Linked DNA regions of Homo sapiens. The protein of the gene in region 3 purifies or fractionates together with the protein of the main gene of each other region. This does not show direct contact. Each region holds a gene or a part of one and is shown on either strand. Other genes may lie near its edges.

What was found.
Region 1: the proteins of RAB3A (region 3) and VWA5B2 purify together in Homo sapiens (affinity purification with mass spectrometry; 3 studies listed by BioGRID and IntAct, with this or other methods). This does not show direct contact.
Region 2: the proteins of RAB3A (region 3) and RANGRF purify together in Homo sapiens (affinity purification with mass spectrometry; 3 studies listed by BioGRID and IntAct, with this or other methods). This does not show direct contact.

Annotation. Positions count from the first base shown.
Region 1 is NC_000003.12:184,224,811-184,232,751, forward strand, and holds the start of VWA5B2 (von Willebrand factor A domain-containing protein 5B2), read left to right. Parts: upstream 1-4,774; 5' UTR 4,775-4,903; exon of another isoform or gene 4,904-4,986; intron 4,987-5,542; exon of another isoform or gene 5,543-5,569; 5' UTR 5,570-5,718; coding exon 5,719-5,857; intron 5,858-5,936; coding exon 5,937-6,107; intron 6,108-7,941.
Region 2 is NC_000017.11:8,284,507-8,290,754, reverse strand, and holds RANGRF (ran guanine nucleotide release factor), read right to left. Parts: upstream 2,086-6,248; 5' UTR 1,967-2,085; coding exon 1,890-1,966; exon of another isoform or gene 1,800-1,889; coding exon 1,683-1,799; exon of another isoform or gene 1,498-1,682; coding exon 1,341-1,497; coding exon of another isoform or gene 1,253-1,340; coding exon 1,167-1,252; coding exon of another isoform or gene 1,163-1,166; exon of another isoform or gene 1,140-1,162; coding exon of another isoform or gene 1,112-1,139; exon of another isoform or gene 943-1,111; coding exon 819-942; coding exon of another isoform or gene 771-818; 3' UTR 668-770; downstream 1-667. Other genes in the region: SLC25A35 (solute carrier family 25 member 35), read left to right, coding at 77-250. UniProt on the Homo sapiens protein: May regulate the intracellular trafficking of RAN. Promotes guanine nucleotide release from RAN and inhibits binding of new GTP by preventing the binding of the RAN guanine nucleotide exchange factor RCC1.
Region 3 is NC_000019.10:18,200,999-18,208,411, forward strand, and holds the start of RAB3A (ras-related protein Rab-3A), read right to left. Parts: upstream 3,045-7,413; 5' UTR 2,898-3,044; intron 1,743-2,897; coding exon 1,515-1,742; intron 1-1,514. UniProt on the Homo sapiens protein: The small GTPases Rab are key regulators of intracellular membrane trafficking, from the formation of transport vesicles to their fusion with membranes.

The DNA of each region.
Region 1 (7,941 bases), on a different chromosome or scaffold from region 3:
ACCACCACACCTGGCTAATTTTTGCATTTTTAATAGAGACAGGGTTTTGCCATGTTTGCCAGGCTGGTCTCAAACTCCTGACCTCAGGTGATCTGCCCACCTCGGCCTCCCAAAGTGCTGGGATTATAGACGTGAGCCACCGCGCCTGGCCCCGGCTTCTGAATAGGTCTTCCTTAATTTAGTCAAGCTAAGACCCAGAGTTAACCTTCACAATGTTCCTCATCTAATCACTTGAGGCCTGAACAGAACAAAAAGATGGACCTCCATGAGAAAGAGGAAATTCTCCAGCAGGCTGCCTCCAAATTTCATCTGCACCATCCGGTCTCCAGGGTCTTTAGCCCGCCAGCCCGCACTGGACTTGCCTGTACAAGCACACGAGCCAATTCCTTATTTTATATATACGTATTCTCTCTCTCTCTCTCTCTCTCTCTCTCTCAATCTCTGTTGGTTCTGTTTTCTCTGGAGAACCCTAACACACCACCTTATTGAAAGGATCAAAGTTAAAATCGCCAGTAACTGTAACTGACATGTACATCCTCCCAATGAGATATAGTGAGAAGGGTACAACGTCACTTATGTGGTGTTCCTATGGGAAGTGCATATCCTGAATCTAATTATGAGGAAACAACAGACAAACTCAAACTGACGGACATTCTACAAAACAACTGGCCAGTACTCTTCAAATGTGTCAGTATCACAAAAGACAAAAAGGAGAAACTACTCCCAGTAGAAGACTCTTAAAGGCTGGGAGCAGTGGCTCACACCTATAATCCCAACACTTTGGGAGGCTGAGGCAGGCAGATCACTTGAGGTCAGGAGTTTGAGACCAGCCTGACCAACTTGGTGAAACCCCATCTCTACTAAAAATACAAAAATTAGCTGGGCATGGTGGTGGGTGCCTGTATTCTCAGCTACTCGGGAGGCTGAGGCAGGAGAATCGCTTGAACTGGGAGGTGGAGGTCACAGTGAGCTGAGATTGCACACGCACCACTGCACTCTAGCCTGGACTACGGAGTGAGATTCCATCTCAAAAAATAAAAATAAAAACAAAAACACAAAAATTAGCCAGGCATTCTGGCGTGCACATGTAGTCCCAGCTACTCTGGAGGTTGAGGCATGAGAATCACTTGAACCCGGGAGGCGGAGGTTGCAGTGAGCTGAGATTGAGCCATTGCACTCCAGCCTAGGCAAAACAGTGAGACTGTGTTTCAAAACAAACAAACAAACAAACAAATAAAAAAAACTACCCCCCCCCACACCAACTGGCTGGGCATGGTGGCTCACACCTGTAACCCCAGTACTTTGGGAAGCCAAGGAGGAAGGATCCTTTGAGCTCAAGAGTTCAAGACTGCAGTGAGCTATGATTGTGCCACTCCACTCCAGCCTGGGTGACAGAGTGAGACCCTGTCTCTGAAAAAAAAAAAAAAAAGAAAAGAAAAGACAAACCGAAGTGTTTAGGGGTAAAGAGGTCGGATGTGTAAAACTTAATTTGAAATGGTTCAGAAAAAAATGCTTTATTTGCAACTTTTGTAGAAGTTTTGAAGTTATTTTGAAATACAAAATTTAAAAATTAATTGTTTAATTGACGTCTTTCGTGAGGGGAGGGGCTACCACTGTCTTGTTTTCTGCTGTAGTTCCAGCTCTAGCACACCGCAGGCTTCAACAAGAAATATTTCTTGAGTGAACAAATGAATTAATGAACTAAACCATCTTCCAATTTGGGTTTCAGGCAGGGGCTGGGATTTTGGAAGTCAAGCTTTAGACAGCAAGAGGCAAAATTCCTCTTTTTCTCTAGGTATATCTCTTCTGGAGCTCCAATCTGAGAGGGTAGATCATCTATAGTTTGGGGAAATAAGACCTCTGCCCTCCAAAGGCCGACAGGCAGCCCACAAGCAGGAGATAATTGAGTTGTGCTTTGCAACAAGAAGACCTGGCTGAGTGCCATTTTCTAAGTCAGTTCCCTAAGGTTCACCCTATTCCCCACATCACCACCACCCTTGGTTAAGATTTGTTTTTTAATTTTTAATTGTTATGGAGATAGGGTCTCCCTATGTTGTCCAGGCTGGTCTCAAACTCCTGGCCTCAAGGGATTCTCCTGCCTTAGGCTCCTGAAGTGCTGGCATTACAGGTGTGAGCCACCGCCAGCCAGTTAAAAGCTTTTATAATATCCATTACTATTACTCTTGTAATGCAGCACTTATCTCAAGCTACTGTAACTGTATATTTGTCTGCCCTTTTCACTAAAGTGTGAGACTCTCCTAGGCAGAAGCTAAGTCTTTTCAGCTCAATATCCTCCTATGGGCCAGGCGCAGTGGCTCATGCCTATAATCCTAGCACTTTGGGAGGCTGAGGCAGGCAGATTGCCTGAGCTCAGGAGTTCAAGACCAGCCTGGACAACATGGTGAAACCCTGTCTCTACTAAAAATCCAAAAAATTACCCAGGCATGCTGGTGCTCGCCTGTAATCCCAGCTTCTCAGGAGGCTGAGGCAGGAGAATCACTTGAACCTGGGAGGCAGATGTTGCATGCAGTGAGCCGAGATCGCTCCACTACACTCCAGCCTGGACGACAGGGCGAAACTCTGTCTCAAAAAATATATCTATATATCTATATCTATATGTATATCATCTATATCATCTATTCTCCTATGACTACCACGTAGCCCACCCCATGCTATCCCTCAGCCCGGCCTCAGATCTGGAATCTGGTTCCTGTGCTGTCCCCTTCTGCCCTTGGCTGTCATGCTGCTGCCTCACCACCAGAGGGCCTTCCAGCTGGGCCTCAGAGACCCTTCTTACTGCCCCACCCAAGGTGCCAGGCAGCCAGCACTGGCTCCCCACCCCCTGCCCCTCATCCTGCAGGGTGCCCTATGCTTTTTGTGGAGCCATTCACCTGTCTCTCCCTCCATTTGCCTCAGCTAAGGAGACCTTCCTAGCAAGATCTCAGGGTTGGTCCAGCTTTGCAGCAAAGTTTGACTTCTGCCAGTGTGTGTGTCTGGTCTCTGATAGGGATGCTATCTTCCTGGGAGGCTGTCTTACATCTAAGCTCTCCTCAGGACCAAACAGAAGGACCTCTTTTTCCATTTCCATGTGTCGGAGACCTCCCTAATGACTGCTATTTGCAACCTCATGTTTGTCCAAGGGCTACATGTAGCTCTTGGTTCATTTGTAGAAGGGGCAGAGCACAAGGTGCTTGTGGAAAGGTGGCCACTGCCTGGACCTTTGTGAGGCCCTCAGGGCCAGGGCTGGTCCTACCTGAGGCCCTGGATCACCTGGAGGGACCATCAGCCCATCCACTGTTTCTCCCTAGGCCTGAAAGAGGGACCCTCGTTCAGGATGAAGCTGAGAACAGACTCAGTAGAGAAAGGGGGAGAGAGGTGAATGGAACCATGACCCAGGTAGTATGGAAAGAGGGCTAGGACCCAGCTGGAGCTCCCTGTGTGTTGGGTACGTGTGACTGTGTCTGTGCTCCCTGTATCATTCCTGTGCATTTCCACCCATGAAATTCCCTGGGAAAAGGTCAAGCTCTCTCCACCATGCTAAGTAGGGTGAGCAAAGGAGATGGTTGGGGTTGAGGGCTCAGATACTCAAGGAGGCAGGGATCCCCCGGGGGGATGATCCCTGGTGATAGTGATTGAAATCAGAAGGAGAGAGTTAATGCGGAGGAGTGAGAACCATGGGCCCGACTCGAAAGCTCACTTCCTACTGGCTGTCCTCCATCCCCAGCTCTCCTCAAGCTCTCTCTGCAGAATCTCAGTATGGCATCTGCCAAAAAGCTTACATGGATGATCCCCAAACATGGTCATCTCCTCTCACTTCCCCAGGGCTCTCAGACTCTTCCTTGGGGGACCTGGGAGAGGTTTTCCGGACCTTCCTACTTTTTGACAGCATAACACTGTCAAGCACATGCAAAGTCTGCCAATAACAAGGGGCCCTCCTGACAAGCAGAGATGTTTTCTCTTCAGGGCTGCGGTGATGGGTGGGGGTCACTGCTATGAGGGGACGGTCTGCAGCCATAAGAAGGCTCTTCAGGCTAGAAGGCTTCACTCCCAAGGCCCGCACAGCTGAAGAGACCAAGGGGTTATAGGCTGAGGGCGCTATTGTGCACACCCTCCCACCCCAGCAGAAGTGGTTGGCACTGCAGCGATGCCAAGGCCGGCTGCTTGGGGGTGGGAGGAGGTCGCTGCAGTGATGAGGAATCCCTGCTTGGAGTGAGTGGTCACTGAAGTGGCTGCATGAACTAAAAGTACCTGCAGGGATGGGGGAGGTTTTCTGCAGTGATGAAGAGCACTTTGCAAAGGAAAGGGGCCAGCTTCTTGGGGGAAGAGTCCTGCGGTGACGGTGATGGGGGGCTGGGGGGTTCGCTGCAGTCAGGAGGGAGGGTCTCTGCAGCGATGGGAAGCAACCCAGGGCAGGGGGTGGGGTGGGCTGGGGAATGGGATGCCGTCGTGGTAATGGGATAGCTGGGGTCGCGGCAGTGTCGGTGGCACTTGCAGGACGCCTGATTCCTGAAGAATGGAAAGGGTGGGGTCTCTGAGGCCTCGGTCCTGCAGTGACGGGGATCCGTGCGGCGGCGGGGACGCGGTCCCTGCACTGCGGTGCCCAGTCTGGCTCGGGCTGCCGCGGCTGGCGCGGAGGCGGTACCGCGCCCGAAGGAGGGGGGAGCGCCAGCCCCGCCGCAGCAGCAGCAGGCGTGGCCAGGGCAGGCTGGAGGGGCGGCCTCTCGGAACGGGGGCGGGACCACCGCCGGCAGGGCCCGCGCCCCTGCCGGGACTCAGAGCCGCTGCAGCCACAGTCACGAACTGGCGGCCGGCAGGTGCCGGGACCGAGGGCCACCCGGAGCGCAGAGGCGGCACCACCCACACGGATCCCGTGGGCACCTAGAACTCCGCGGAGGGCGCGACGGTGAGGCTGAGACTGCCACAGGGAGCGGGGCGATCCCCAGAGCCAGCCCGCGGCATCCCCTGCGCGGGCCGCGGCCACTGCAGGTGCCCCCTCCTCCCACATCAGCTCTGCCGGGGTAGGGAGCGGTAACCTGGCGGCTCCCACGGACTCTCCCTGGCCCGACACCTCTCCCGGGCTTGCCTCCCAAAGACCCCCTCTTTTCGCTTTCCCAGCTCGTTCTTCCCACCCTTAACCCCTCCACTCCGGCCAGCACCCCCGTCGGATGAGGCACCAGGGAGAGAAAGACCAAGGCCCTTTCGGCGCCCCATCCACCCTGCCCCCGCGATCCCTCGCAGGGCCGGGGGCCTCCGGGGGGATTCGGGCCCTTTAAACCTCCGCCTTCCCGGAGCATCTTCCATCTCCACCCGCGCCGCTTCCGACAGCTGGCGGCCGCGGGGGGCCCCGGGGGGCCGGCAGGTACGGGGGTGGCTGCGAGGTTGGGAGTGGGCGGTGGAACAGCTGTGACCGCCCCCACCCCCGGGGGAGCCGCGGCGGGACTGCTGGGCGCCGAAGCGCGCGTTAATCATTAACCCTCCGCGGCCCGGCTGCCCAGGTAACGCGTGAGGATGCCCTCCTCGCCACCACGCCTGCCGCCCCCTTATCTCCCCCGCCACCTGTCGCCCTCAGGAGCTCCCGCTCGGCCTCGCGCCCCGGCAGGCCCCGTCCGGGTGCTGGAGTGAGACTCTCGCGCTGGCCTCTGGAGCGCGGGGTGGGCGTCCCGTCACCCTGCGCCCAGCTTCCCCGGCCCGTTCCCGCAGGGCCGGCCTCCCGGCGCCATGCCCGGCCTGTACTGCCCCTCCAGCTGGACGCCGCTGCCGCTCACGGACTCCTGGGTCCGGGCCTGCGCCAACGGCCCCTGCCTCAGCGTGCGGGCCCGGCTCACCTACCGCAACCCGCAGCCGCAGCCGGTGGACGGTGAGGCCCGGGTGGGGCGCGGGCGCGGCGGGGGGTGCGCCGGGCAGGGTCCGACGCCGCCTCCCGCCGCCCTCCCCAGGCGTGTTCGTGTACCCGCTGGCCGAGGCCGAGGTGGTGTCCGGCTTCGAGGCCGAGGCCGCCGGACGGCGCGTCTCCTTCCAGCTGCAGAGCCGGCGCCGCTCGCAGGCCGCCTGCTGCCGCGCTCTGGGCCCGGGGCTGGGGACCCCGACGCCCCGCCGCTGCGCGCAGGGTGAGTTCCGCGCGCCCGCACCCGCGCTCCTGAAAGCCGGGCGCAGCTCAGGCTCCCGCATCCGCTCGGCCTCCGCCCGTCCCCCGCCTTCCTCCGGGCACTGCCTTGTGCATTCATTGGCTCATCCTGGTATTTAGCAGTCGTGGGCTGGGCACCTGACCTGCGCCAGGTGCTGGGAGAACATGGCCCGGAGGTTCACAGCCTGGGAGACAGACACAGCAGGCAGCACAGGGCTTGCGGGGGCGCCAGCAACCCTTACAGCCCAGGAGACCGGTCTCTCTAGGGGGCTGCAAAGGGAGCCTTCTCCCCTGGTGGTCCCCTCCGGCCCCTTACTATTTTAGGCTGCACACCTCAATCCGGCCCCGCGTGGGCCAGTGAATCAAGTGTAGACTCCTGTGCCTAGCAGCCAAGGCCCTCGCTCTCACCCCATTCCATCCCTCTCCCAGCGACCCCATACACCAGGTACCGCTGCCGCTGGCCACACTGACTGACAGGTCCTTTCCCAACTCTCTGCTCTGTCTTTCCATCTTCTATTGAGCAAATTCCTACTTGTCCTTTAAGATCCACTAAACGTCATTCCTAGGGAAACCCTCCCTGACTCTCCCACAAATAGCTGCACTGTTTCCTGGCTCCCCAGCCTTTTGTGCCCCCTCGTTATGGCACTTACAGGGGGAGTCATTGTCACAGATCTGCCTGTCTGTCTCCCCGCTGGAGCATCTCCAAATCCCAGCACCTCACACAGAACCTGGCACTATGAGGCCCAGCGAGTGCCCGGGGAAGGGACAGAAGCCCAGCCCTGTGCTGTGTGCTGTGCTTGCACCTGGTTCTTTCATTGATTCATTCATACATGGCTTTGATTCCTGCCCAGGGGATTTGCAATCCAGGTAAGAAGAAGAGGAACAGAATCCAGTGGTGTTGAGAGCTGGCATAAGCCCAGCACGTTAGGGGCTTGTGGTTAGAGGCTAGAGTGAGCTCTGGGCTGAGGCCCCAGGAATGTTCCAGAAGGAGGTAGAGCCAGCATTTGACTGCAAGAAAGGGTAGGACTCAGTTAAGTGGAAGGTAGGGGCAACAGTATAAGCAAATGCTTATAAGTAGGTTACAGTGGGTAATGACAATAAAATATCTCATGTTTATAGTGATTTACAGTTTACAATCGCTAGTATCACCTCATTTGAATCCCAAGTAGTGGGTAATGCAGGCTTCTTCCTGTTATGGGGGATGGAAGGGGGATAATCCCCCTTCCTCCTGTTATGGGGGATGAAAGTCATAGCAGGGGTCACTGACTTATATGTTGGGTGCTTTGCATACATTGCCTCATTTGTTCCTCACCACAATCACAGAGTTATTATGATCCCCACTTTATGGATGAGGAAACAGGCTCCTCAGAACAAGAGAGCTGCCAAAGGACTCAATTAGAGGTCACCGAGCTGATATTTAAAACTTGATGCTGTGCTGTCTCCACTGTGTCGGTTGGCTGGGATGGAAGCCCCTTTCTTTCTTTCCTTCCATCTTTTTCTTCCCTTCAGTTATTCAGCAAGTATTTATTGAAAGGATGAACAATTGGTCATTGTGAGGAAGTGAGGTACAGTAGGGCTGTGAACGTGGGCTGGGGCCAGACCACGTCGGTGGTGTACACAGCTGCCACTGTACATGGCTGGTCATTATTCCTTTAGCAGCCCCACCAGTCCCCAAACAAACCTAGGAGCTAAATAAAACAGTGTGTGCAGTGTGCAAATGGAGCTTTATGTCCTCCAGCCTGCTTCCTGCTTCTCTATTCCTCCTGCCCGGGAGGAGTAGAGAATTCTGGAGCCACCTTAGTGGGCAATGGGGGAGC
Region 2 (6,248 bases), on a different chromosome or scaffold from region 3:
TGTAGAGGTGCTGCCCCTGGTGGGCTCTGACAAACTCCTTCTCTGTGCTCTCCCTCCCTCTCTGACACACTCTCAGGGCCTCATGTACCGGGGGATACTGGACGCTCTGCTGCAGACAGCTCGGACCGAGGGCATTTTTGGCATGTACAAGGGTATAGGTGCCTCCTACTTCCGCCTCGGCCCCCACACCATCCTCTCCCTCTTCTTCTGGGACCAGCTGCGCTCCCTCTACTACACAGACACTAAATAACAGCCGCTTTCCCAGTCTCCACCAAATGAGCACTCCTTGGCCACTTGTGCCTCCACCACTATGTCCTGGTGACTACTGATTAGGTGACCTTTCATCCATCCATGGGGGACAGCCAACCCCACTCCCCATCTGTTCTCAGGGTTGAATCACTACAAGAGATGAGTTTCCCTTCTTTCCTTGGGTGTTGCTTTAAACCTTCCCTACCCATTCCCTGGGTAACTCACACCCCTCTCTCAGGGCTGAACGAGTCATCCCAAAGTGTATTTCCTCCCACTCACCACTGCCACCCTTGAGTCCCTCCTGCTCCCATGCACAGTTTTAAACTCCTCCCTCCAAAACCAAAGGGAATCGAGAGACCCAATTCCCAGGCGTCTGGGACCCAGGTGTCCTGTTAGATTCAAAGGCACAGAGATTATATTGATTATAAAGCAAGTTTATTCTGAAGAGGGATTGTCTTATGTTTACGCACAGGGAAGAAATAAGAGGAAACCCTCTTTTCAACCTCTTTTCCCCCTCACAGAACCGAGTCCCCAAGTTCTCAGCAACATCATGCAGTGCTTCAGCGCCTTTACTGGGGACCAAAGATGTTAGGATCGTGAAGGGTCAGACTGGTCACCAGCTGTTCAAAGTCACCCAGGCTCCAGGGTGCAGGTGACAGATTTTCGGGGCCAAGAGATGACCTGTTGTCAGGGCTTGGGGTGGGGGAACAGATGGAGACAGAACATCATCCAGGCCTGAGGTTTGGAAATTGCCAATTCCTGTTCCCCAGAGGACCTGGGTATCAGTTACCCCAAACCTCTGGCCCACTCCTGCTTCCTTGGAGGATCCCACCAGTGAGTCTCCCTGTTCTGTCCCTCCCAGCCCGATTCTCCTGGGAACCCAGTCATGAGATACCCGCCCGTTCCTTCCTCCTTACGGGGGCTGATTGAAGGTAAGCAAGAGATCAGTCTGGTACTGGGGCAGCCTCAGCAAGGCCTGATGAAGTGTCACGTCCTTTGCTACCTAAGGGGATCAGAGTCAGGATGCTTACCTGGATCTCTGCGTCCCCGCTACCGCCCTTCCAGGACATTACACACTCTCGGGCCCTCACCTGCTGGTTTTCCTTAGCTATCTGCTGCTTGCCAGAGAGGACCCAGGCTTCTTGACAGCGGCCCCTCAGGGCCAGGTTCTCCAAACTGAGAGGCTGAACAGACTCCACATGGACAGCCCTAGCCCCCTGCACGCCACCAACATCCTCAAAGTGGTACCTGGAGTAGGGAAGCGGGGTCAGGAAGGGACATCTCTGGTCGCCTCCCCGGGAGCATCTTTAAGTTGCAGGCCTGGCTCCCGGCCCGTGCGTGGTCTCACCGCCCGGATTAACCGTCGGCCGCGGGCCCCGCCCACTGGTCCGACCCCGCCCCTGCCATTGGCCAGCCGGGGGCCATTCCCTCACCGCGCAGCCGCTTCGCCCCGTACGTGGGCCTGCAGCTCGAGAAGTTCCACTATCAGGCTCTGGTCCGTCACGGGATGGCAGAAAACTTCTTGATTGTCCGGGACCGGTCGGAGGTCGCTGGAGTGAGGCGAGGCAGACCCTGGTTGACCCCGGTCTCTTCCCACAACCCACCCAGTCAGCCGCCCCTGGGCGCCCCGGCCTTCTCACCTTACGTCAATGGCCCCCATGGGGAGGATGGCGGAAAAGGCGCCCCCGAACAGCGGGCAGTCTCTCGTGGGCTCCATGGGTCTGAGGCTGGGTTATGGGCATTAGAAAGGTTTAAAAGAAGTCCACATTGGGTCACGTGGCATCGGCTCCCTGGGTTTCGCAGCTGCCACCGCCACCCGGGTCTGGCTTAGCTCCCGGATCCTTTAAGATTTGGCTCCGCCCTGCGCTCTCGTTGGCCAATCGGCGCCAAGACCCTGGGGGCGGGGGTCAGCGGCTTTGCTCCGGAAGCCGCGCTCTTAGGAGTGCGCCTGGCGGGACGGTGGGGTCTGCCTTGGGGTTGGACTTAGGGTTAGGGTCTATGTCGCCCCCGGTGGTCACGAGCATGCTCCCGCCAGCCTCCTCTTGATTGATTGATTGATTGATTGATTGACAGGTCTCGCTGTGTCGCCCAGGCTGTAATGCAGTGGCGCGATCACCGCTCACTGCAGTCTCCACCTCCAGGACTCAAGTGATACTCCTGCCTCAGCCTCTTGAGTGGCTCCTGCTCCCGCCACCACGCCCGGCTAAATTTTTAATTACTTGTAGAAATGGGGCGGGGTGGGGAGTGTCTCCCAATCTTGCCCAGGCTGGCCTCAAACTCCTGGACTCAAGCGATCCTCCCGCCTCGGCTCCCTAAGTGCTGGAATTACAGGCGAGAGCCACAGCGCCTGGCCTCCTCGTCCTTTTCAAGTGGTCACACCTTCCAAGAAGGTCGCCTGAGACCCTCCTGAGGGGCAGGTGCTCGTCAAAGGGGCCCACGTCTAGGTAGGGTCTCTTGAGTCAGGAAAGCATAGTTTCACGGTGTTCTGGGCCTCTGAAAGAAGAATGGGCTGCCACCCAGACCGCTAATTCATAGATCTGCTGCTGGGAATTAGGGGAACAATGCGTCCAGGTTAGGATTCAGGTCTCACATCTTCCTGAAAGTGAGAGCCAACCTGGGTATTAGAAATCTAATTCCTCTCAAATATTTGCCTTGGGAATGCTCCCGGGCAGGTGCAACCCCACCCCCAGCTCCACACACCTGGACAGAAGCACAGATTAAACCCTCTTTTGTTTGTCTTTTACAGATTTGTTGTGTTCTTTAAGTTTTAACTTCACTATATCATTTCAGTTCATTTCTCTATTCATCTTTGATCCTCAGCACCCGGCACGGTGTTTAGAGCATAACAGACCTGATATATATTGGGTTTTTTTGTTTTGTTTTGTTTTTGAGATGGAGTTTCACTCTTGTTGCCCAGGCTGGAGTGCAATGGCATGATCTTGGCTCACTGCAACCTCCGCCTCCTGGGTTCAAGCTGTTCTCCTGCCCCAACCTCCCAAGTAGCTGGATTACAGGCATGCACCACCACACCCAGCTAATTTTGTATTTTTAGTAGAGATGGAGTTTCTCCATGTTGGTCAGGTGAGTCTCGAACTTCCGACCTCAGATGATCCGCCTGCCTTGGCCTCCCAAAGTGCTGGGATTATTACAGGCGTGAGCCAGCGTGCCCAGCCCAGACCTAATATATATTGTTAAGTGATTGAATAAACTCAATGCAAATGTCTGGAACCCAGGAGATCACCCATACCCTCATGGATTCTAGATGTCACCTACTTCCCAGCCAAGAATTGGGCAAGAGGACTCTGATCTTGAGGCCATTCCACAGGGTTCCAAGTGCTGACCATACCTCTGGACCCTAATGACTTAGTGAAATGAAGCCAAAGGGTACATATTTATTGGTCTCTTACCTTGCCAGGCCCTAATGTGAAGGGCTGGAGATACAAAGACATTTAGGACACAGCCCCCGATGCCTCACTGAAGGAACAGTGGAGCACACTTTGAGTCTTTTTTTGTTTTTTTTTTTGAGAGGCGGTCTCACTGTTGCCAAGACTAGACTGTAGTGGTGCAGTCGTAGCTCACTGCAGCCTCAACCTTGTGGGCTCAAGCCATCCTCCTGCCTCAGCCTCCTGAGTAGCTGGGACTACAGGCATGCACCACCATGCTCCGGTAATTTTTGTGTGTGTGTGTGTGTTTTATTTTAGGGATGGAGTCTCACTGTGTTGCCCAGGCTGGTCTCGGACTTCTGGTCTCAAGTGATCCTCCTGCCTTGGCCTCCCAAAGTGATGGGATTATAGGCATGCGCCACCATGCCTGGCCCATACTTTGAGTCTTAAAGTTTGACTCAGAATTCAGTAGGACATCCTAGGGGTATTCTAGCTGGGGGAACATCAGGAGCAAAAACTTGGAGATGAGAGGGCATATTTTGGAGAAAGCAAGTGTATCTGTTTGGCAAGGGAGGGTAGGATGGGAATGGGTGGCAGGGAGCTGCAAACACAGTCAGGTGTGCAGGGTTTTTGTAGCGCACACTAAGGAGCTTGACTCCTCATTTCTTACTATAGCCATCAGACTCCTCTCTGAGTCTCATTTCCTCATCTCTAAAATGCTGTTGGGGGGCCAGGCGCCGTGGCTCACACCTGTAATCCCAGCACTTTGGGAGGCCCAGGTGGGTGGATCACCTGAGATCAGGAGTTCTAGACCAGCCTGGCCAACATGGTCAAACCCTGTCTCTACTAAACATACAAAAAAAAAAAAAAACAAAGGAAGAAATCAGATATGGATGTAGTTGAGTCTGACCTATTTCTGGGTAAAGAGAGTAGAATAAGTTTGCTGTATGAGGAATTTGACAGAGCGGGGGCGTTACAGGCTCTAGAGGGAAAGAAGGACCCCAGCCATGGGAAACAAAAGGAGCCAGGTCAGAGGAGTCCACCCCATGATGCTTCTCTGGGATAATGAGTGACAGACCTCTCTGTCCCTCTCTCCTCCTTGCTGCCAGCCTGCTCTCCAGCTCCATTCCCCACCAGGGGCAATACTGGCTCTGGCTGCTTTGGGAGCAGTCAAGCAGGTAGAGTCCTTGGAAAGGGACCTACAGGGACATAGAAGTTAACAGGGTGCCTGCACCAGGCATAAGGGGGTGTGGAGGCCTGTTACATGGGCCCAGAGGAGGTCACGCCAGGTCAGGAAGGCTGAGAAAAAAGCCCCCCCAACTTCCTCATTTTGGGTGTCTGGCCTGTCTCATGTTCTCCCATGAGCCCTACGCAGCTGGGGACCCCTGGCCCTCCACAATTCTGTGGGCTCTTGGGGGCTGCTCAGCCAGACCTCCTCTGAATGAATGGGGTGGAAGGCCACCCTCACTTGGCAAATCCCCACGCTTGGCTCCACTTCCCCTTCTCCCTTCACCTTTTTTTTTGTGTGCCTGTCAATTCTGCTGGCCCTGCCACCTGTCGACTCCCTCAAGTGTTCAAATTCCAACTTCCCAAGGGACAGGATCCAACTGGGTCGATTAGTTGTTATTCAATCTGAAAGTACCTATTTGGCCGGCTCTCCTGCCTGGCCACTCCTCAGGCCACCACCCAAACACAAGGGAGATCTCTGGTCCAGCTGGCTGTGGCTAGGATGATAAGTATCAGGGGACAAATCTCAGTAGAGAGAAGGCCAGCAGCCACTTTTCTCAGGCGAATGTGAGGGTATGGCTCGCTGTCAGCCCACTGGTTGCAAGTAGGCCTGCAACTGATTGATTCTCTACACCTGGGACATTCCCTTATCCAATGCCCTGCATGCAGTTGATGCAGTTGTTTGCTATGGGGACAAGAGTCCCAGAGACTCTCCCCTTTAGGGCACCAAGAGATGGACTCAGATCAGAGAGACAACACCACACCCAAAGTCAAGCATTCCTTTGAGTTAGGACAATGAATATTTCTATTAAGCAGGGGTTTTCGTCCTTTTTTCTACTGTGGACTGCTTTGGCAGTTTTGTGAAGCCCATGATCCCCTATTCGGTGTAATGTTATTATTTTTATTTTTTCTGTGTTTTTGAGACAGGGTCTTATTCTGTCACCCAGGCTGGAGTGCAGTGGCATGATAACAGCTCACTGCAGCCTCAACCTCCTGGGCTTAAGCCATCCTCCCACCTTGGACTCTCAAAGAGATTACAGGCATGGGCCAGGTGCGGTGGCTCACGCCTGTAATCCTAGCACTTTGAGAGGCCTAGGTGGGCAGATTGCTTGAGCTCAGGAGTTTGAGACCAGCCTGGAAAACAAAGTGAGACTCTGTCTCTATTACCAAAAAAAAAAAAAAAAATTAGCCAGGCATGGTGGCATATGCCTGTAGTGCCAGCTACTTGGGAGGCCAAGGTGGGAGGATGACTTGAGCCTGGGAGGCAGAGGTTGTAATGAGCCAAGATCACGCCATTGCACTCCAGCCTGGTCAACAGAGCCAGACTGTTTCTCAAAAAATAAAAAAGAAAATTAAACCCAGATATTTGATAGAGTACAAGTCTACTTC
Region 3 (7,413 bases):
CCAAGGCAGGTGGATCACCTGAGGTCAGGAGTTCGAGACCAGCCTGGCCAACATGGTGAAACTCTGTCTCTACTAAAAATACAAAAATTAGCTCGGCGTGGTGGCATGCACCTGTAATCCCAGCTACTCAGGAGGCTGAGGCAGGAGAATCGCTTGAACTCAGGAGACAGAGGTTGCAGTGAGCCGAGATCGCGCCATTGCACTCCACCCTGGGTGACAAGAGCGAGACTCCGTCTCAAAACAATAACAACAAAAAAAAAAAAAAAAAGAAAGAAAGAAAGAAAGAAAGAAAGAAAACAGAGGCCAGGCGTGGTGGCTCATGCTTGTAATCCCAGCACCTTGGGAGGCCAAGACAGGTGGATCACTTGTGGTCAGGAGTTCAAGACTAGCCTGGCCAACATGGCGAAACCCTATCTCTACTAAAAATACAAAAAAAAATTAGCTGGGCTTGGTGGTGAGCCCCTGTAATCCCAGCTACTCAGGAGGCTGAGGCAGGAGAATCGCTTGAACCCGGGAGGCAGAGGTTTCAGTGAGCCAAGATTGCACTACTGCACTCCAGCCTGGGTGACAGAGCAAAAACTCTGTCTCAAAAAACAAACAAACAAATAAACAAACATGGACTGGGCACTGATCTTTTCCACACCCTGAACTGGACACTGGGGACACAGTTGTTAACAAGATGGGCACTTCCCTTGCTAAGTGACACTCAGTGTGGGAAATAGAAAATAACGGTATAAATGTATCCTATATTGGAGAGTGACAAGGACCAAGGAGAAAAATCAAGCCAGATGAAGATGGAGAGAATTTAACTGTAGGTTTAAAAATTAAAGGAAGCTGACACTTGCCTGTACTCCCAGCTACTTGGGAAGCTGAGGCGGGAGGATTGCTTGAGCCCACGAGTTCAAATCCAGCCTGGGCAACAGAGTGAGACTCTGTCTCTTAAAACTAACAAGGCCAGGTGGGGTGGCTCATGCCTGTAATCTTAGCACTTTGAGAGGCTGAGGTGGGAGGATCGCTTGAGCCCAGGAGTTCAAGACCAGCCTGGGCAGACATAGCCCGACCCTGTCTCTACAAAAAAGAAAAAAATCAGCAGGCGTGGTGGTAGAAGCCCGTGGTCCTAGCTACTCAGGAGGCTCAGGTGGAAGAATGGTTTGAGCCTGGGAAGTCGAGGCTGCAGAGAGCCGTGATCACGTAACTGCATTCCAGCCTAGGGGACAGAGCAAGACCACCCTGTCTCAAAAAACAAACAAAAAAAGAGAATGGGGACCAAGATCCAGCTGAAACCTCATACATGGAAGAACTTGAAGATGGGGAAACTGAGGGACCAGGATTAGGTGCTTATGGGAGAACACAGGTGCTGTTTCTGCCCCGGTACACAGTGGGCACCTTACTGATAAATGCCCAGTGTGTAAGTGAATGACTCCAGTCAGGAAAGAGATAGACGAGGTTGGGGCTGCTTTTCCAAGTACGGGAATCCAACCGAGCCGGGCGGGAGCCCTCCAGCTGGGACCCACCCAGATCTGCAGCTTGATCCTCTTGTCGTTGCGATAGATGGTCTTGACCTTGAAGTCGATGCCCACGGTGCTGACGAAGGCAGGCGTGAACGAGTCGTCAGCATAGCGGAAGAGGAAGGACGTCTTGCCCACGCTGCTGTTGCCGATGATGAGAATCTTGAACATGTAGTCGAAGTTCTGATCCGAGGACTCCTTCTGCCCATAGCGCGAGTCTGTGGCGGATGCCATCTGGGGATACCGGGTGTAGCAGAGCCGTGAGGGGGGCTCTCTCCATCCTCATGTGCCCAAGCCCAGGCAGAAGATGGCAAGGGCTCCAGAAAACGGCCGGTGTATGGAGGACACCCTTATCCCATCAGGAGCCCCAGTATTAATTGGTGGTGCCCCCAGCAGAGGGCAGCCTGTGACCTTGAAATCCTGGGCGTTTCAGAGGAGGGGCTCAGAGGGTTGCCGATGGGGACACCCCAGCAGCCCCCTTCAAGGGGCAGGTGCCCCAGGTGGGGCTGTAACCCTAAACCCAGGGCTGAGCCCGGAGGGGGTGACTGCGGCTGGCTCCGCCCCCCATCAATCTTTCATGGTCCTCAGAACCCGGCCGCGCGGCCCCACGTGCACCGCGTGCATGGTCCCTCGAGGACGCGCATCTGCAGCCCCCGCTCCCCGCAAACCTCCAGGCCGGAGAGCTCCGGCCAAGGCCGCTGCATCACATGATACAGGAGGGGCATGCACACGCTCACGTGCACACAGCCTCAAACACGCTCATCCGTACATACAGGAGTGTGTGAACGCACTGAGGTGCACAGGACAAAGACACAGACACCTGTTTGCACACCGACTCGCCTATAGAAATGTGCAAACCACCCGTGCGCACAGGCCCCTCCACCCATGCAGGCGTGTGCACATCACCCACACGGACACGGATCCCCGTGCTTGTATGCACGGGCCATACCTGCACAGGCGGTCCACACGTCTTTCTCCACGCGCGTGCAACGCTCACACACTTAGGCCCAGACCCCCACGGCGTCACACGAGCATATCCAGGTACACAAGCAAGGGTGCACACAGACCCGCTGACACAGGCAGGCGCGCACACGCGTGTGCACACCACGCGCACGCGCACGCAAAAGCCTCCCGCGCGCACAGCTTCCCGCAAGGAGCTCGGCTCCCCTCCCCCTCCGCCGCAGAGCAGGGGGGTTGGGGGGGTTAGTGGTGAGGATCAGGCAGGAGTGGGGCGCCCGGGCCCTACCCATTCCCAGCCTCGCGACCGCCGCATCCTTCCCCCCATTCAACCCTAGTCAACCTCGTCCCCCACCTCCATCAGCCCATCAGTCAAATGAAGGTTATGCAGGTGCTCGGAGCCTGAGCACACCCGGCCGCCCAGGAGCTCACCTTGCCCTGCACCGATGCAACGGCGACCCTAGCGGCGGTGACTTTTTTGGCGGTGGCGGTGACAGGACCCCGGTGCGTTGATGTGGGGCTGCGCGGCGGCGGCGGCAGCAGCGGCTCAGGCCCCTGCAGTCCTCCGTGACGTCCTGCAAAGGGAGGGGCGGAGCCTCACATGTAGATAAGTCCGTGACGCCATCCGGAGGCGGAGCCGCGCGTAGAGATGTGGCCCATTGACGCACGCAGAGCCAGATGGGGCAGGGCTCCTGAGCAGATTGACGTGCAAATGGGGCGGGGCCTAGCGTGTGCATCCAGTAGGGGCGGGAGCGGCGCGGGGGCCGACTCCGCCTCTCGTCCGCCTCCTGTCCGCCTCGGGGAGGCGGGGCCCCTCAGCGTTCTCTCACTGGCTTAAGCTCTCGAGCGACGGGCGAAGTAGCCAATCAGAGATTGTCTACGCCCTCCTCTTGTCCAATGGTGGCATCTGGGAGATTGAAGGGCCGAGAGGCTGAGGCCTTGGCTGAGCCCCGGTCTTCGAGGGGCGGTTCCCTTACCCGCCCGCACCCACCCCAGGTAGGGGACTCTTGAGGCCACCGTCTAGTCCAAGGTGCTGTGACCCCTGTTAAATGCCCCTGACTCCCAATTGCAGAAAAGAAAAATCGAGGCCCAAGAGATGTTTTATACCCTCACATATATGGGGTTCAAAATAAATACCAAAGAATAAACAGGAGTCAAGAGGGACCCCTGTCCCATTCCCGAGGCGTAAGACCCCCCCACTGAGGGAGGGGCTAGTAAAGACTCCACCCCTCCCCCGTTTCTGAGGTTTGAAAAGAAAGAAGTAGAGGTCAAGAGAGCCTCCCCTCCCCACCATTCCCAGAAAAGGAGGAAGGGGCTGATGGACTCTCTGGGAACCCCCTCCCCTCCCTGCGCCCCGTCATCAAGAAGAAAATTCGAAGAAAAGGTTTAGCAGGGACAGAGAAGCGACCTGTCCCGGAAACCCCTTAAAGCCTGCGGTAAATGCCCCGGGAAACAGGGAGGGCACGAGCCGAAGCCTCCAGCTCTTCAAAGCTCGGATTCAAAGACCCGGGGGCTGGGAGACCCCCTCCCTCCATCCTGGGAAAGCAAAACTCAGAGGATGGAGCCTTTTGGGAGCTAAGATGGTCCATCTTTTATTCCTCCAAATCTTTAGGGAAGGAAGTCAGAATTTGGGGAGGGAGGAGGAGCCCGAAACCCCAGCCCCCACTTTGGGTCTCCTGCTCCCCCTACTCCAGCTTTCAAACCCTCCAGGGGTGTGTGGCCCCCAGGAGAGTCCTGATCCCCTAGATTCTCCCCCCACCCCTCCCAGTAGGCGGGGCTGGAGCGTGTGTGTGTGGCGGGGGGTGACTCGTCCTGTTTATAAAAAGCTCGCCAGCTGCGGAGGCGCCGAGAGACCAGAATAACTTAGCGCCTCGAGGCCCAGCCGCCGCCAACCCAGTCCCCAGCCCGCCCCCAGTGCCCTGGGAGTACTGGGACGCCCACCCCCACGTCCCCGCACCGTTTACATTTGGGAAATTTATTTTTTCTTTTTAGGGTAACATGTTTGCTCCCTCCTCCCCCACTCGGACTATAGAAGTATCACCAATCCACTGCAGAGAAATTGGGAAAATTCAGAAAAACAAAAAATAAAAAGAAATCCACCTCCCATTCTCCCTGCCCTCCGCGCCCACGCGGTAGTCCGTGCTCTGTGGGGGGCTCCAGGGCAGCTGGTCCAGGCCCTGGCCTGCCGCCTCCTTGGAGGGGAGGTTTTTCGGTTGCTCAGCTCCCTGATCGCCCAAAGGCACGCTTCCTACATGGGTGGCTCTCTCGGAAATACCTCCTGCCTTTTTTCCCCAGGAAGAGAAAAGTGAGCCACGAGAATGTGCGGAAGCTTCCGTCACTGACTTAGTATTTTAAAGTAAAAATAGCCGGGTGCGGAGGCTTACGCCTGTAATCCCACCACTTTGGGAGACCAAGGCGGGAGGATCGCTTGAGCCCAGGAATTGGAAACCAGCCTGAGTAACATAGGGAGGCCCCATCTCTACAAAAAATTTAAAAATTAGCTGGATGTGGTGTCGCGTGCTTGTGGACCCAAATACTCCCGAGGCTGAAGTAGGAGGATCACTTGAGCTCAGGAGGTCGAGGCTGTAGGAAACCGTATCGCGCCACTACACTCCAGCCTGGACGACAGAGTGAGACGCTGTCTCAAAAAATTAATTACTTAATTTAAATTTAAAAAGAATGCAAGCCCTTGATTGTCCAGAGCAGCATTGGGCTCTGGAATTAGAAATGGTTGAGCTGGGGGAGGGGCTGCGGGATTGGGGTATTTTCTTTGTGTCAGGGGAGACAGAGCTGGTGGGAGAACGGGCTAGGCTTCCAGGCCGGTCCCACTCAGAGGAAAGTCCAGAGGCTTCCCTGCATCCCTACCCTATCGTCTACACTAGACAAATAAAAATAAAAATGTGGCCAGGTGCGGTGGTTTATGCCTGTAATACCAGCACTTTGGGAGGCCGAGTCAGGAGGATCACTCCTTGACCTTGAGGTCAGGAGTTCGAGACCAGCCTGGCCAACATGGTGAAACCCCATCTCTGCTAAAAATACAAAAATTAGCCCGGTGTGGTGGTGCCTGTCCCAGGAGGCTGCTCAGGAGGCCCAGGCATGAGAATCGCATGAACCAGGGAGGCGGAGGTTGCAGTGAGCTGAGATCACCGGCACCACTGCACGCCAGCCTAGGTGCTAGAGGGAGACTCTGTCTCAAGAAAAAAAAAAAAAAGTATCCCAGATACGGGTCCAGGGACGACTTCTCGGGGAAGAAGACACTAACTTAAAACCCAGTGTGGGGGCCAGGTGTGGTGGCTCATGCCTGTAATCCCAGCACTTTGGGAGGCCGAGGTGGGTGGATCACCTGAGGTCAGAAGTTCAAGACCAGCGTGGTCAACATGGTGAAACCCCATTTCTACTAAATATTAGCCGGGCATGGTGGCGGTCGCCTGTAATCCCTGCTACTTGGGAGGCTGAGGCAGGAGAATCGCTTGAACCCGGGAGGCAGAGGTTGCAGTGAGCCAAGATCACGCCATTGTCCTCCAGCCTGGGCAACAAGAGCGAAACTTTGTCTAAAACAAAAATAAAAACAAAAATCTAATGGGTGAGGCTGGGGGCTGAGAGAGAAGCATTCCAGGTAGTGGGAACAGCTTGTTTGAAGGCCCTGTGGTGGGACCAGGCTTGCAGTGTGGCCAGAGCAGATGCAGTCAGTAAGAGGAGAGGGACAAATGCCTTTGGCTCAAACTGAAGGAGAACATATGAATATTCATTTATAAGAAATATGAATATTCTAGGGCTGGGTGCAGTGGCTCATGCCTGTAATCCCAGCACTTTGGGAGGCCGAGGCAGGCGGATCATGAGGTCAGGAGTTCAAGACCAGCCTGGCCAACATGGTGAAAACCCAGTCTCTACTAAAAATACAAAAATTAGCTGGGCATGGTGGTGGGCACCTGTAATCCCAGCTACTCAGGAGACTGAGGCAGGAGAATCGTTTGAACCCAGGAGGCGGAGGTTGCAGTTAGCCAAGATCACACCATTGCACTCCCGCCTGGGCGACAAGGCGAGACGCAAAGAAAGAAAGAAAGAGAAAGGGAAAAGGAAAGAAAAGAAAGACAGAGAAAGAAAGAAAAGAAAAGAAAGAAAAAAATATGAATTTTTTTTTTTTTTTTGAGACAGTCTCGCTCTGTCACCCAGGCTAGAGTGCAGTGGCTCGATCTTGGCTCACTGCAAGCTCCGCCTCCCGGGTTCAGGCCATTCTCCTGCCTCAGCCTCCCGAGTAGCTGGGACTACAGGCGCCTGCAACCACGCCCGGCTAATTTTTTGTATTTTTAGTAGAGACGGGGTTTCACTGTTAGCCAGGACGGTCTCGATCTCCTGACCTCGTGATCCGCCCGCCTCGGCCTCCCAAAGTGCTGGGATTACAGGCGTGAGCCACCGCGCCCAGCCAAAAATATGAATATCTTATAACAGATGGAGAAAAACTAGAGGGAAATAAGTCAAAATACTGCAGATAATCCATGGGTGGAGATACAGCAGAATTTTATTTCCTTCTTTATACATTTCCATTATTTCCAAATTTTTTACAGCGAACATGGTATTACTTTGTAAGCGGACTGGGGGGAAAAATCTTGAAAAAAAAATTCCCTAAATATCTTCTTTTTAAAAGTCTGGAAGGAAATGCACCAAGTTCGTGAACCCGGATGACTTTTAGTTCTGGCACTGTGGAATTTTATCATTAACTGTGATGATGATGAATTCTGAGTGGTTATAATATTTATGAACGAAGCCAGCTGCTCTGGAAGCCGAGGGCGGCTGTGATGACGCCTGTATCTTGTATAAATATTCAGGCACGCGAAGAGGGAGGCAGAGGGGAGGGATGGATACTGAGGCTTCCGGAGGCGGGGATCGAACCCTAGGCTTGAGCATGGTGCTGCCCAGTCCGCTCGGAGGCCCGACCAGCAGGACGAGC